Linked DNA regions of Homo sapiens. The protein of the gene in region 2 binds, or shares a complex with, the protein of the main gene of each other region. Each region holds a gene or a part of one and is shown on either strand. Other genes may lie near its edges. The genes, in order: STK3 and SAV1. A codon is read from its position in the direction of its gene.

Region 1 (4,853 bases), on a different chromosome or scaffold from region 2:
TTTTTAATAATCTTTGTATGTTTCATACTTATCGTTCTTTTTATAATCTTATAATTTGTATCCAATTATACAATTTATTATTATTTGTAAGGGCTCAACAGGGTAGAGACAAATGACACTTTGAGGCATTACCTAGGGTACAAATACCATTTTTAAAAAGGAATGGAAGCTTTCCAGAGACAATATACCTTCTGTGACAGACATTAGTGAACTCATCAGCTTTTCCTGTTCTCTCCCCTCCAGCTACGTGGTGATGCTACTCTTCCTGACTCCCTCGAAGTTAGGAGTGTCCATGTGACTAATTCTGAATACTGGGTTGTGGCCAACCAGACATGTATCACTACTGGCTGGAGCTAGTATGAAACTCTCCAGCTCCCCTTCTCCTTATTGTGGTGACCACAGATATCTCAGATGGTTGAGGCCCTGTCAGCAGGTCCCTGGGTGTGGATGATAGGAGCAGGGCGCCCTGCCAAACTGGGGTGGGCCTGGAGCAAGAGTGAGGAATAACCTGTATTATGTGAAGCCGCTGAAGGGTGAGGGTTGTCAGCACTGCATAATCTAGCCTGTCCTAACTAATATACGTCCCTTGCTTGGAAAATGCAGAGTCCAGGTCATGAGTTTTAACAAAGATACAGAAACGAAATATGCTGGGTGGCACAGTGAAATTTATTTGTCTTTATGATTTACACATAATAATTAAACACACAAAAGAAAAAACACTGTCAAGATGGCCATATGTAGCTTAGGAAATGACTGGTCCCAATGCAATCATATAAATGTTCATTCAGCGTAAAAATGAGTTTCTTTTTAATGGTTTTAATCTTTTTTTTTTCAGTCCCCAAGGCTTGTACCACTCAGTACAAATGTTTTTGCTACTGGGTTATCATCAGGAACATGATGTTTACCAATTCCCAGGAAATGAATAAAATCAACAGAAACATCCTGTGACAACAGAGCACATTTTCATAGAAATGAAATTGATGAGCTTATTACAGTTTGAATCAGTTCAGCTATTAGATCTACACATAAAACATGAAACAATATTAACAAATTACATTTGTATTAAGTTTTTATTTAAAAATATTTATCACACTTTTTTGTGCAAGGGTTCCATTGATTTCTTTGGTTTTAAACACGATAGATCTATTTTACCTAAATATATATAGTTCTATTTGTACCAAACATCAAAAATCAAAAAAACAAAATTTCAAAGGGTAAAAATGGAATTATTGCTTCAATATAAAAAAGGCCTAGCCCATTTGAGAACTACTGCCATTATTGCTTTCCTATTTGAAAAACTATCCTGGAAATCAAGGAATGTACCCCATAGCTCCCTGCAGAAAGTATAAATTGGTTGCACATTATCATCATATTAATATGACCCTACCTTCACCAAAGCTATCCTGATCTTGTCCTTAAAAAATGAAACAAAGCAAAATAGCATAAATAAATAAGTTTACCTAAGGGGATACAATAAATAGCCTAGTATACTAGATAGGAATAAAGAATATTGTAACATAAAGCCCTTCAGTGCTGTACAATGCAACAATAGCTTTGGATTTTCAAGGTTTAGAGACCTTGAAAATCCATTTCATAACAGTTTTATTACTGGTATGCAGCTGACAGAACAAGAGAATACACTTCTTTTGTTCTCCTCATCTTAGAGTGAATGCACAGCAGATACAACTGTCAATTCTGCCTTTTGGGAATTTACCTGGGCATGTACCATTGTCACTTTTTGACCTCTGCCTAATTGTAGGGCAAAATCTTAGGATTAAAAATATCCAAATATTCCTTCAATTCCTAGTGGTTTCTTGGTCTCCAGAATAGTTAAAAACAGAGAGGAAATTAGACTCAAAAGTTTTGCTGCCTTCTTTTCTTTGCATCCATCGCATCCAGAATGGGCTGTCTTTTCGCAGTGTATCTCTGACGAAGTTCTTCTATCTCCCGTTCCATCATGGGGTCCAGTGCTTTTAACCGCATCTGTAGTTCTTCTAAACTTAGATTTTTCAACTAGATACAGAAAGAAAGATACCAATACAATGAAATTATCCACATTATCCACAATCAATACAATGAAATTAGACTTTAATGTCTAATGAGTTTTAACATAAATATTTCAGCAAATTCTTTACATCATCTTTGAAGTATAGTTCAACAATTAAAACAGGAATTTCTTCCTTGAAGAACTCAGAGGTCATATCTTGCAAGAACCTCCAGTAATCTGCAATGAAGCAATCCGATCCTCTGCCTTTAATAAAGGGCAAATGAGAAAAATACGCTGATGGAATTTGTAAAAAGGTACAAAGACAAATCCACCACTGCCAACAAACAGATTTTCAGAATATGTTCCAGGTATATTCACTCTAACTTTTTACATCTTTGCCAGCTACTGAGTGCTACAATAATCATGAACACTTGCAGAGATCACTCAAGAATGTGACAAGACTGAATAAAGGTTAAATTAACCATTCTATCCTCCATTTTACTAAATGCTTAATAAAGAAGATGACTGTGGTAGGGGGCGGGAAGTAAGGCTGAATAGGCCTGGTGGGGCCCCAAAAGCAGGAAGCCATGATCAATTCTGGAGTAGGACAGTTATGTAAGAGTAATCCAGATTTGGTTTTCTTTTCTTCTTCTTCTTCTTCTTATTTTTTTTGACACAAGGTCTCAAACTTCTGGGCTCAAGAGATCCTCCTGCCTTGACCTCCTCAGTAGCTGGGATGTGCCACTGCACCCAGCTCAGGCTTGGTTTTAAAATGATAAAACTTGCAACTTACTTTTTGTTTTAAGAAGATAATTGCCTTTGGTTATTTTATGAGTCAAGCTAGGAAAAATACTCATTACTTATAGTCATCCAAAGTAGCATTTCTCAGCAGATCCTTTTACTCGCCATCCCTGGCCCTATCGTGACTTCTGCTTCCAAAAACCAAATTCACTCTTAGCTGAAAAAGACTCTGAGGATACTGAAAAGAATGAGTCATAGACTCTCTGAAGGAAATTCAAAAAAGGAGTTCCAAAAATATTTTGAGAAATGACAGTGTTATGGAGAAGAGTATGCAGGCTTCCATGATGATGACTTTGAAGGTGAATGCCACTCACTTCGGTGCATAAGAAGTTCTGGTATGTATATTAATAATCAGCCCTGTTATTTTGTAGTCATATGTCATGAAAGAACCTAGCTTTTAATATTATGCCATAAAACATACATTTATATATCATATGTAGTATTATACACTTTCTTCATTGATTTTTAATCCAAGTAGTGATCTTGCATCTGTTACATGCTCAGTGCTGTTCAAATCACTGTGGAGATACAGAATAAGACAAACAGGGAAACTCCAAACTTTGAACTGTACACATCGGTAATGGCCACATTGAAAGGCCAATGTATACCACACAACCACATTTCCCAAGAAAGACATGCCCAACTATGTCTATGTAGGATCCAGTTCCACTTCTGTGTTCTTCAACATCATCTCTATTTCAGCCCATGTTAATCTTTCCCATTTCTAAATTTCTATGTAACACTCATAATTTAAACAACACAATTTAGTATTTGATTCTAAATCATGTACTATTTTATAATTGATTTTTATGCATGAGTTTCATGTCCCTAGATATTCCAAAAAATACTTAGACTTTAGAGACTGTACATACACCAAGAAACTATCCTACTATACTGCAAATAACATGACGTAAACGTAGATAGATAAATATGAATAAGAATATATGACCCAAAGGAGTGGGTTACTCTAAGATCAGAAGAACTAACATATTATATAAAGCAAACAATTATCATTACTTTAATTCTGAATTAAGATATTCCTGTAAATATCTTGTACTACTTTTACTGGGGCAAACTGCCAATAGGTTTATAAATATTGTATTGCAGTAATAGACTGAACTCAGAAAAAGAAGCTACTTAGAAGAAAAATTTTCTTCCTTTAACAGATTTTTATATTATCAATGCGTAAAATTTGTGAAAAACAGGTCTGTGATATTAGAGAAACATTATCTAACATTATTAAGGAATTAGGTGTTCATGTAAGTAAATTAATGAAGTACCTAAATCTTAGTTCTTTAAGTGATAAAACTTTGTCTCAATATCACATACACACACATATACACACACACACACACACACATGTGCACACACACATGTATTTACATATGCTCTTTTTTGGTTCTATGTGACTTTTAGGATTTTTTTCTAATTTTGTGAAAAATGATGTTGGTATTTTGATAGGAAATGCACTGAATCTGTAGACTGCTTTGGGCAGTAAGGTCTTTTTCATAATATTGATTCTTCCAATCCATGAGCATGGGATGTATTTCCATTTGTGTCATGCATGATTTCTTTCAACAGTGTTTTGTAGTTCTCCCTGTAGGGATCTTTTACCTTCTTGGCTAAGTATATTCCTAGGTAATTTATTGCTATTACTATTATTATTATTAATTATTTTACAGCTATTGTAAAAGGGGTTGAGTTCTTGATTTGATTCTCAGCTTGGTCACTGTTGGTATATAATAGTGCTACTGATTTGTACCACTGATTTTGTAACCTAAGACTTTACTGATATGGTTTGGCTGTGTCCCCACCCAAATCTCATCATGAATTGTAATCCTCATAATCCCCATGTGTCTAGGGAGACACCTGGTGGGAGGTGATTGGATCATGGGGGCAGTTTCCCTCCATGCTGTTCTAGTGATAGTGAGTGAGTTCTCACAATATCTGATGGTTTTATAAGGGGCCCTTCCTTCTTCAATCTCACTCTGCTCTCCCCTCTCACCACGTGAGAAGGTCCAGGCTTGCTTCACCTTCACCTTCCACCATGATTGTAAATTTCCTG
Region 2 (7,297 bases):
GATACAAATTACATATATATGTAAAATATGTATTCATATTATTCTCTTTCATATGTATTGTGTTAGGTTTCTGTAGCTGTAAAACACATTACTTCCAAACTCATTGGCATAAAACAATAAACATTTATTATCTCAGTTTCTGTGGTTCAGGATTTTGGAAGCGGCTTAGCCAGGTCATTCTGACTCAGGATCTCTCATGAAGTTGGAGTTCACACACGTCAGCTGGGGCTGCAGTTATCCGAAGCTTCGCTCTGGCTGAAAGATCCATTTCTTTCTTTCTTTTTTTTTTTTTGGAGACAGAGTCTCTCTCTGTTGCTCAGGCTTGAGTGCAGTGGCGCGCTCTCGGCTCACTGCATCCTCCATCTCCCAGGTTCAAGTGTTCTCCTGCCTCAGCCTCCTGAGTAGCTGGGACTACAGGCATGTGCCGCCACGCCCAGCTAATTATTTGTAATTTTAGTAGAGATAGGGTTTTGTCGTCTTGGCCCGGCTGGTCTCAAACTTCTGACATCAGGTGGTCCATCCACCTTGGCCTCCCAAAGTGCTGGGATTACAGGTGTGAGCCACTGCGCCCGGCCAAAAGATCCGCTTCTAAGTTCACTCACAAGGCTGTTAACAGGAGGCTTCAGTTCTGGCTGAAGGCCTCAATTCCTCACTCATGGGCTTCTCATGATATGGTATCTGGTTTCCCCCAGGGTGAGTGATGAGAGAGCAAGTACACTTGACCAAGGCAGAAGCTGCACGGTCTTTTATATCCTAATCTCAGAAGTCACACACCATCCTTTCTGCCATAAACTATTGGTCACACAGACAAGGGTGTGAATCCCAGGAGGACAGGGATAATTGGGGCCCAGGTTCACCTTACTGGCTGGCTACTACATATATGTATATATGGTGGTGTACTGTCCAGACTCTTTTTTCACATAATACATCCCGAATATTATTCCAGGGCAATAAATAGAAATCATCTTCATTCATGTTTACAGCTATATAATATAGTACTCTGTTCTGTGCGTGTAATAGTGTAATCATCCAGTTTGCTATTATTGGACATTTGGTTGATTTCTAGCCTTTTGCAACTATAGATGTTGCTGCAGTGACTAGCCTTATGCATATGCATTGTATGTTGTATTTAAATAAAAACAGTTTCTTAAACCACATGCCAATAACCCGTATTTATCCATACACTTACATATCCTTCTTTAGAATCTGAGTTTGAATTGAAGCATTTACCTTAATTTTAAAGTTTCTTCTAAATTACCTTTTGTCACTGGGGTCTGTTTCATTTGCCTTTCTTTAAAGGTAAACTTGATGTTTTCATTTTGCCTTAGTTTCCAGCCAACTGTAATTTTAAAAGCTCTTCAAAGTCAGCTGGGAACTTTTGACTAGTAGATGTTTTGCTCTGGCATGGTACTCCTTCACACCTCAATGGTCACCCAGTCTTTCTTATTTTGACCATTCTGAGATATTCTAAATTTGGCAGTTAGGGCCTTGGGTTGACTGGCAGTCTTCTGTTAACACACTAACTTTTCATTTAAATGCTGTATCCTTGTACCTTTCAGGCACAGGGATTCAAATTTATGTTAAAATTTTGTCTGGGGTGCAACTGTTACAAATAATGAGGATTAATAATAGTATGAACCACATACTGTCTTCCTAGGACTGTGTTAGAACATGCACCAGCAATGATAATACATCTGTATTTGCTGCCTAGTGGCTAACAGATTTACTCTCTTGATTATAAAAAACACCTTCGTTTCAGAACTAGTAAAATATGGGAGTGAAAGAGGCAAAATAAGTCCAAAAATCAAGGAAAATATTTATGCAGTTTCTGTCTCATTGATGTGTGTATCTCCTCCACTAATACTACACTGTCTTTATTACTGCAGCTTATTTATTTAACACTTACTATGTGCTTTATTCTGTAGACACTGTTCTAGAGACTGGAGATGTATCTGTGAACAAAACAAAGATTCCTGTCCTAAGAATCTTCTTTGTGGGATTCTTGTAGGTAAATAAACAAACTAAAATTACATAAGTTAAAAGGTTAAAGTGCTTTTTAAAAAAGTAAAACGGTAAGTAGAAGCTCAGCAGATGTAGACTGCCATAGTAAGAATAAGCTTCATTGAAACATTTGAGAAGAGGCTTGAAGAGGGTGAGAGTGAGCCAAGAGAATATCTGAAGGAAGAATCTTCTAGGGAGAATAAACAGCCAGTACCTGCCGTGTTTGAGAACAGCATCCAGGAGGTGAGTGTAGCTGGAACAGAGTGAGCTAAGGGTAAAAAAAATAGCAGCTTAAGTCAGAGAAGAAATGGAGGTCTGATCATCAGTAGGGCTTCATATTGAAAGTTATACAAGAGATAACTTTCATCAAGTAATGAGACAGTAAAGATAACTTGTACCAAATATCAAGGAAAAAACTTACTGAGCTCAGCCAGTATCACCAACCTGTGGTGAACCAAATAAATACTTCTTGTTTTAAGCCACTGAGTTTCGGGGTGATTTGTTATACATATGCTATTAGTATTCTTTTTTTTTTTGAGACGGAGTCTTGCTCCGTCGCCCAGGCTGGAGTGCAGTGGCGCAATCTCGGCTCACTGCAACCTCCGCCTCCCGGGTTCACGCCATTCTCCTGTCTCAGCCTCCCAAGTAGCTGGGACTACAGGCGCCCGCCACCACGCCCAGCTAATTTTTGTATTTTTAGTAGAGATGGGGTTTCACCGTGTTAGCCAGGATGGTCTCGATCTCCTGACCTCATGATCTGCCCGCCTCGGCCTCCCAAAGTGCTGGGATTACAGGCATGAGCCACCGCACCCGGCCAACTATTAGTATTCTTGTGTGAGAATAAAATTATGCAGCCAGATTATTCTTTTAAAAAGTATAGTAAATTTAACTTTTTTCAAGTTACACAGTTCTGAGTATTAACATATGTATAGATTTCATGTAATGCCTGTGTAATGAGAATACAGAACATTTCAAACACCCTCTAAAATTCCCTTAGGTTGTCCTCTTATAGTCAACTCCTGTCCCTCACCTCCAGTTCCTAGCAATCACTGTTTTCTGTCCTAGTAGTTTTGTGTTTGGAAGAATCTCATAAAAATGGAACTGTACAATTTGTAGCCACTTGAGACTGGCTGCTTTCCCTCAGCATGATACTTCTGAGATTCATCTTTGAGATTCTTGCATGTACCAATAATTAGTTCCATTTTATTCCTGAGTAGATTTCACTGTACAGTTGCACCACAGTTTGTTTATCCATTCTGTTAAAGGACATGTGTGTCATTTCCACTTTGGGGCAAATATGAATACAGTCATTGTAAATATCCACAAATGGGATTTTGTGTGAAGATGACTTCTCATTTCTCTAGGGTAAATATTTGGGAATGGGATTGCTGTAGCATATGAAAAGCATATGTTTAACTTTATAAGAAATTGCTAAGCTGTTCTCCAGAGTGACTGTAGCATTTTGCATCCACACCAGCAGTGTATGGGCATTCCAATTGTTCTGTATCCATGTAAGCACTTGCATTGTCAGGTTTTGTTTGGTTTTTTGGCCATTTTCATAGACGTGTATTGTCATTTCATTATGGTTTTAATTTGCATTTCTCTCACGGCTAATTATGATCCTGAGCATTTTTTCACGTGCTATTTACCATCAATATGTTGTCTTCGGTGAAGTGCCTGTTAAAAATTCTTACCCCCCTTTTTTTTAACTGGGTCGTTTTGTTTTCTTCTTCTGTTTTTGTTTTGAGAGAAGGGGTTTCACTCTGTTGCACAGACCGGAGTGCCGTAGCTGTTCACAGGCATGATGATAGTGTGCTACAGACCTGAAATCTTGGGCTCAAGTAACCCTCCTACTCAGCTTCCTGAGTAGGTTGAACTACAGGTGCGTGTCACTGCAGCAGGCTCAGGGTTGTTTTCTTAATGTTGAGTTTTGAGAATTCTTTGTATATTCTAGGTCAGAGTTCTTTGGCTAATAATGTGATTTGCAAACATTTTCTCCCTGTTTACAGCTTGATTTTCTTTCTCTTAGTGTCCTTCACAAGCGTTTTTAATCTTGACAGAGTTCAATTTAATCAGTATTTTTTCTTTATGAGTTGAACTTTCAGCATCATGGTAAAAAAAAGTACTCTTTGTCTAAACTAAACTCATGAAAATTTATTCTATTTTTTTCTTGTAAAAGCGTTATAGTTTTAAATTTAGATATATGATCTATTTTTAGTTAATTTGTATGTAAGGTGGCAGGTATAGGTTGTGATTAGGTTTTTTGCATATGGATGTCCAGTTGTTGCAACATCATTTGTTGGAAAAACCTTTCCCCGCTATTGCCCTTTCACCTTTATAAAAAAATCAGTTGACCATGTCTGTGTGGGTGTTCTTCTGGATTCTCTGTTTGGTTCCATTTATCTATTTGTCTGTTCTTCTGACAATACCATACTGTCTTGATTAATGTAGCTTTATAGTAAGCCTTAAAAATCAGGTAGTGTGAGTCCTTCAACTTTATCCCTTTTTCAAAAAAATTGTTTTGGCTACTCTAGTTCTCTTTTGCCTTTCAGTATACATTTTAAAATCTGTTTAATAACTATCTGTATCTACAAAAACTCCATGGAATTTTTTTTTTTTTTTTTTTTTGAGACAGAGTTTCACTCTCGTCGCCCAGGATGGAGTGTAATGGCGCGTTCTCAGCTCACTGCAACCTCTGCTCTCGGGTTCAAGCAATTCTCCTGCCTCAGCCTCCCGAGTAGCTGGGATTACAGGCGTCCGCCACCACGCCCGGCTAATTTTTGTGTTTTTAATAGAGACGGGGTTTCACCATGTTGGTCAGGCTGGTCTCAAACTCCGGACCTCAGGTGATCCGCTCACCTTGGCCTCCCAAAGTGCTCGGATTACAGGCGTGAGCCACTGCGCTCGGCCGGAATTTTTATTGGAATGACAGTAGTCTCGCTTTATCCATGGTTTTGCTTTCCACAGTTTCAGTTACCTCTGCAACTGCAGTCTGAAAATTGATGAATATGGTACAAGATCTTTCAAGAGAGAGGGAGAGAGATTACATTCACCCAGTTTTTATTATAATAATTGTTCAATTTTATTTTTGTTAATCCCTTACTGTGCCTAATTTATAAGTTAAACTTCATCATAGATACGTATGTATAGGAAAATACACAGCATACACAGGGTTAGGTACTATCTGCAGTTTCAGGCATCTACGGGAGGTCTTGGAATGGATCCCCCATGGATAAGGGGGGGACTCCTATAAAGATAAAGATAATTTCAGGAGAATTGACATCTTAACTTTATGTCGAATCTTCCAATCCGTTAATGTGATAGGTTTTTTATTTCTTTCATCAGTGTTTTGTAGTTTTTAGCATATTGGTCCTGCACAATTCTTTGGAGCTATTATAAATTATATTATCTCAATAACTTTTGTTTCCAGTTGTTGTTTGTTAATATATAAATATTAATTTTTGTATGGTGACCTTAACCCTGCTACCTTAAGCTTACTTAATAATTCTAGGGCACAGCCAGATTACTTTTAAGAATTTATAACCGGGAATGGTTTTACAAGTTCATTTTTACATTTTTTTTAAAGCTGAAATGTCAAATCTTTAATCAGGGGAAATTTTCTTTTTCCCACTTTTCTTTTGGCAGTATACATACTTAAGTAGCTTTACTGCCACAGGTTGATTATCCCTTACCCCAAAATGCTTAGGACCAGAAGTGTTTGAGATTTTGGATTTTTTTTTTTATTTTGGAATATTTGTATGTACATAATAAGATATCTTGGGAAGAGATCCCAAATCTGAACATGAAATTCATTTATATTTCATATATACCTTCTACACATAGCCTGAAGGTAATTTTACATAATATTTTAAATAATTTTGTGCATAAAACAAAGTTTTGACTGAATTTTGACTATGACTCATCACATAAGGTCAGGTGTGGAATTTTCTGCTTGTGGCAACATGTCAGCTCTCGAAGTTTTGGATTTTGGAGCATTTCAAATTTCAGATTTTTGGATTAGGGATGCTCAACCTGTTGTTAAGTGTTTGTATGGCCTGTTGATGGAAGCATCAGCCAAAAAACCCTCTACTAATTTCAAAGTCTAGTTCCTCCCCCTTTTTATAATTCCTTAATAGTAATACCGACTAGTTTTATGAAAACCATCATAATGGGCATAATCATGAATTTAAATAGAAGAGTACAATCAGGATAGTTAATGTTGTGACTTTGCTAGCTGGCACATTTTTTGCATTGAATAATTGTTCTGTTTCTTCTCTATCATTTTCTCTTTCCCCGTAGGTATTGGGAGAGTTGCTGCTACATCTTTAGGAAATTTGACTAACCATGGTTCTGAAGATTTACCCCTTCCTCCTGGCTGGTCTGTGGACTGGACAATGAGAGGGAGAAAATATTATATAGATCATAACACAAATACAACTCACTGGAGCCATCCTCTTGAGCGAGAAGGACTTCCTCCTGGATGGGAACGAGTTGAGTCATCCGAATTTGGAACCTATTATGTAGATCACACAAATAAGAAGGCCCAATACAGGCATCCCTGTGCTCCTAGGTACAGTATCAACTTTATTTTCAACTTTTTGTTTCGGGATTGTCTAATGTTAGGTTTTGAACTGATATTTTCATCTAAGAGAATAGCATCCTAAAGCTTGAGATTTGAAAGCCTTATATTTCAAAATTTACATTTTTCTCTGGACATACATTTAGTAATAAATGACTTTAATAAGTTAAAAAAATACTTTTCTCTTTAAAAAAACCTCAAAAACAAGATCATTGTTCTTATGATCAGATTCTGCTGTAGTAATGCCAGAATGTTTTTGTTATAGGTGTCCAGAAAATTAAATAATTAAAGCTTCTGCCTTCTTACACTTAAATTTTTACAAATAATAACAGACCTACCCCCTAAGTCAGAATGTACAATTGAATTATAACATTTTGCTGTTTATTCTATTTCAGACATGATTGTATGTTCTGTTTCTTGCTATTACTAGACAAGAAAGTGAAAATTGGGACTGAACAAAACATCCCATTTCTGTTTAATAAATATAGCCAGTAATTCTTTGTGCTGTTTTGATTGATACTGGGCTGGGTAGATCTGCTTTGTTGCCAGACTTTTAGCCCTGTGCTGCCTGATAGCCAGTTGTCACGTGTGGCTGTTGAGCCCTTGAATGTGATTAATATAAATTGAGATGTGCTGTAAGTGTAAATACACACTGGATTTCAAAGTACATAAAAGCTAGTATTAGTTTAGTAATGAAGTTGCAAATATTTCAAATTA

What was found.
Region 1: the proteins of SAV1 (region 2) and STK3 are in contact, whole or in part, in a crystal structure (PDB 6AO5), measured with the Homo sapiens proteins. Residues at the interface, in NP_068590.1 of Homo sapiens: Tyr311, Ala312, Arg313, Ala314, Pro315, Asp319, Trp324, Glu325, Phe327, Gln328, Leu329, Leu332, Asp333, Gln336, Leu339, Lys340, Leu342, Phe343, Glu346, Leu347, Ile350, Val351, Met353, Tyr354, Ala356, Tyr357, Arg358, Ala360, Leu361, Leu362; in NP_006272.2 of Homo sapiens: Trp429, Lys430, Val431, Pro432, Gln433, Gly435, Phe437, Phe439, Leu440 (codon at 2,013), Lys441 (codon at 2,010), Asn442 (codon at 2,007), Leu443 (codon at 2,004), Ser444 (codon at 2,001), Leu445 (codon at 1,998), Leu448 (codon at 1,989), Gln449 (codon at 1,986), Arg451 (codon at 1,980), Leu452 (codon at 1,977), Leu455 (codon at 1,968), Asp456 (codon at 1,965), Met458 (codon at 1,959), Met459 (codon at 1,956), Glu462 (codon at 1,947), Ile463 (codon at 1,944), Leu466 (codon at 1,935), Arg467 (codon at 1,932), Arg469 (codon at 1,926), Tyr470 (codon at 1,923), Ala472 (codon at 1,917), Lys473 (codon at 1,914).

Annotation. Positions count from the first base shown.
Region 1 is NC_000008.11:98,453,988-98,458,840, forward strand, and holds the end of STK3 (serine/threonine-protein kinase 3), read right to left. Parts: intron 3,307-4,853; coding exon of another isoform or gene 3,304-3,306; exon of another isoform or gene 2,252-3,303; coding exon of another isoform or gene 2,198-2,251; exon of another isoform or gene 2,014-2,197; coding exon 1,855-2,013; 3' UTR 646-1,854; downstream 1-645. UniProt on the Homo sapiens protein: Stress-activated, pro-apoptotic kinase which, following caspase-cleavage, enters the nucleus and induces chromatin condensation followed by internucleosomal DNA fragmentation.
Region 2 is NC_000014.9:50,644,018-50,651,314, reverse strand, and holds part of SAV1 (protein salvador homolog 1), read left to right. Parts: intron 1-1,925; coding exon of another isoform or gene 1,926-2,008; intron 2,009-6,300; coding exon 6,301-6,571; intron 6,572-7,297. UniProt on the Homo sapiens protein: Regulator of STK3/MST2 and STK4/MST1 in the Hippo signaling pathway which plays a pivotal role in organ size control and tumor suppression by restricting proliferation and promoting apoptosis.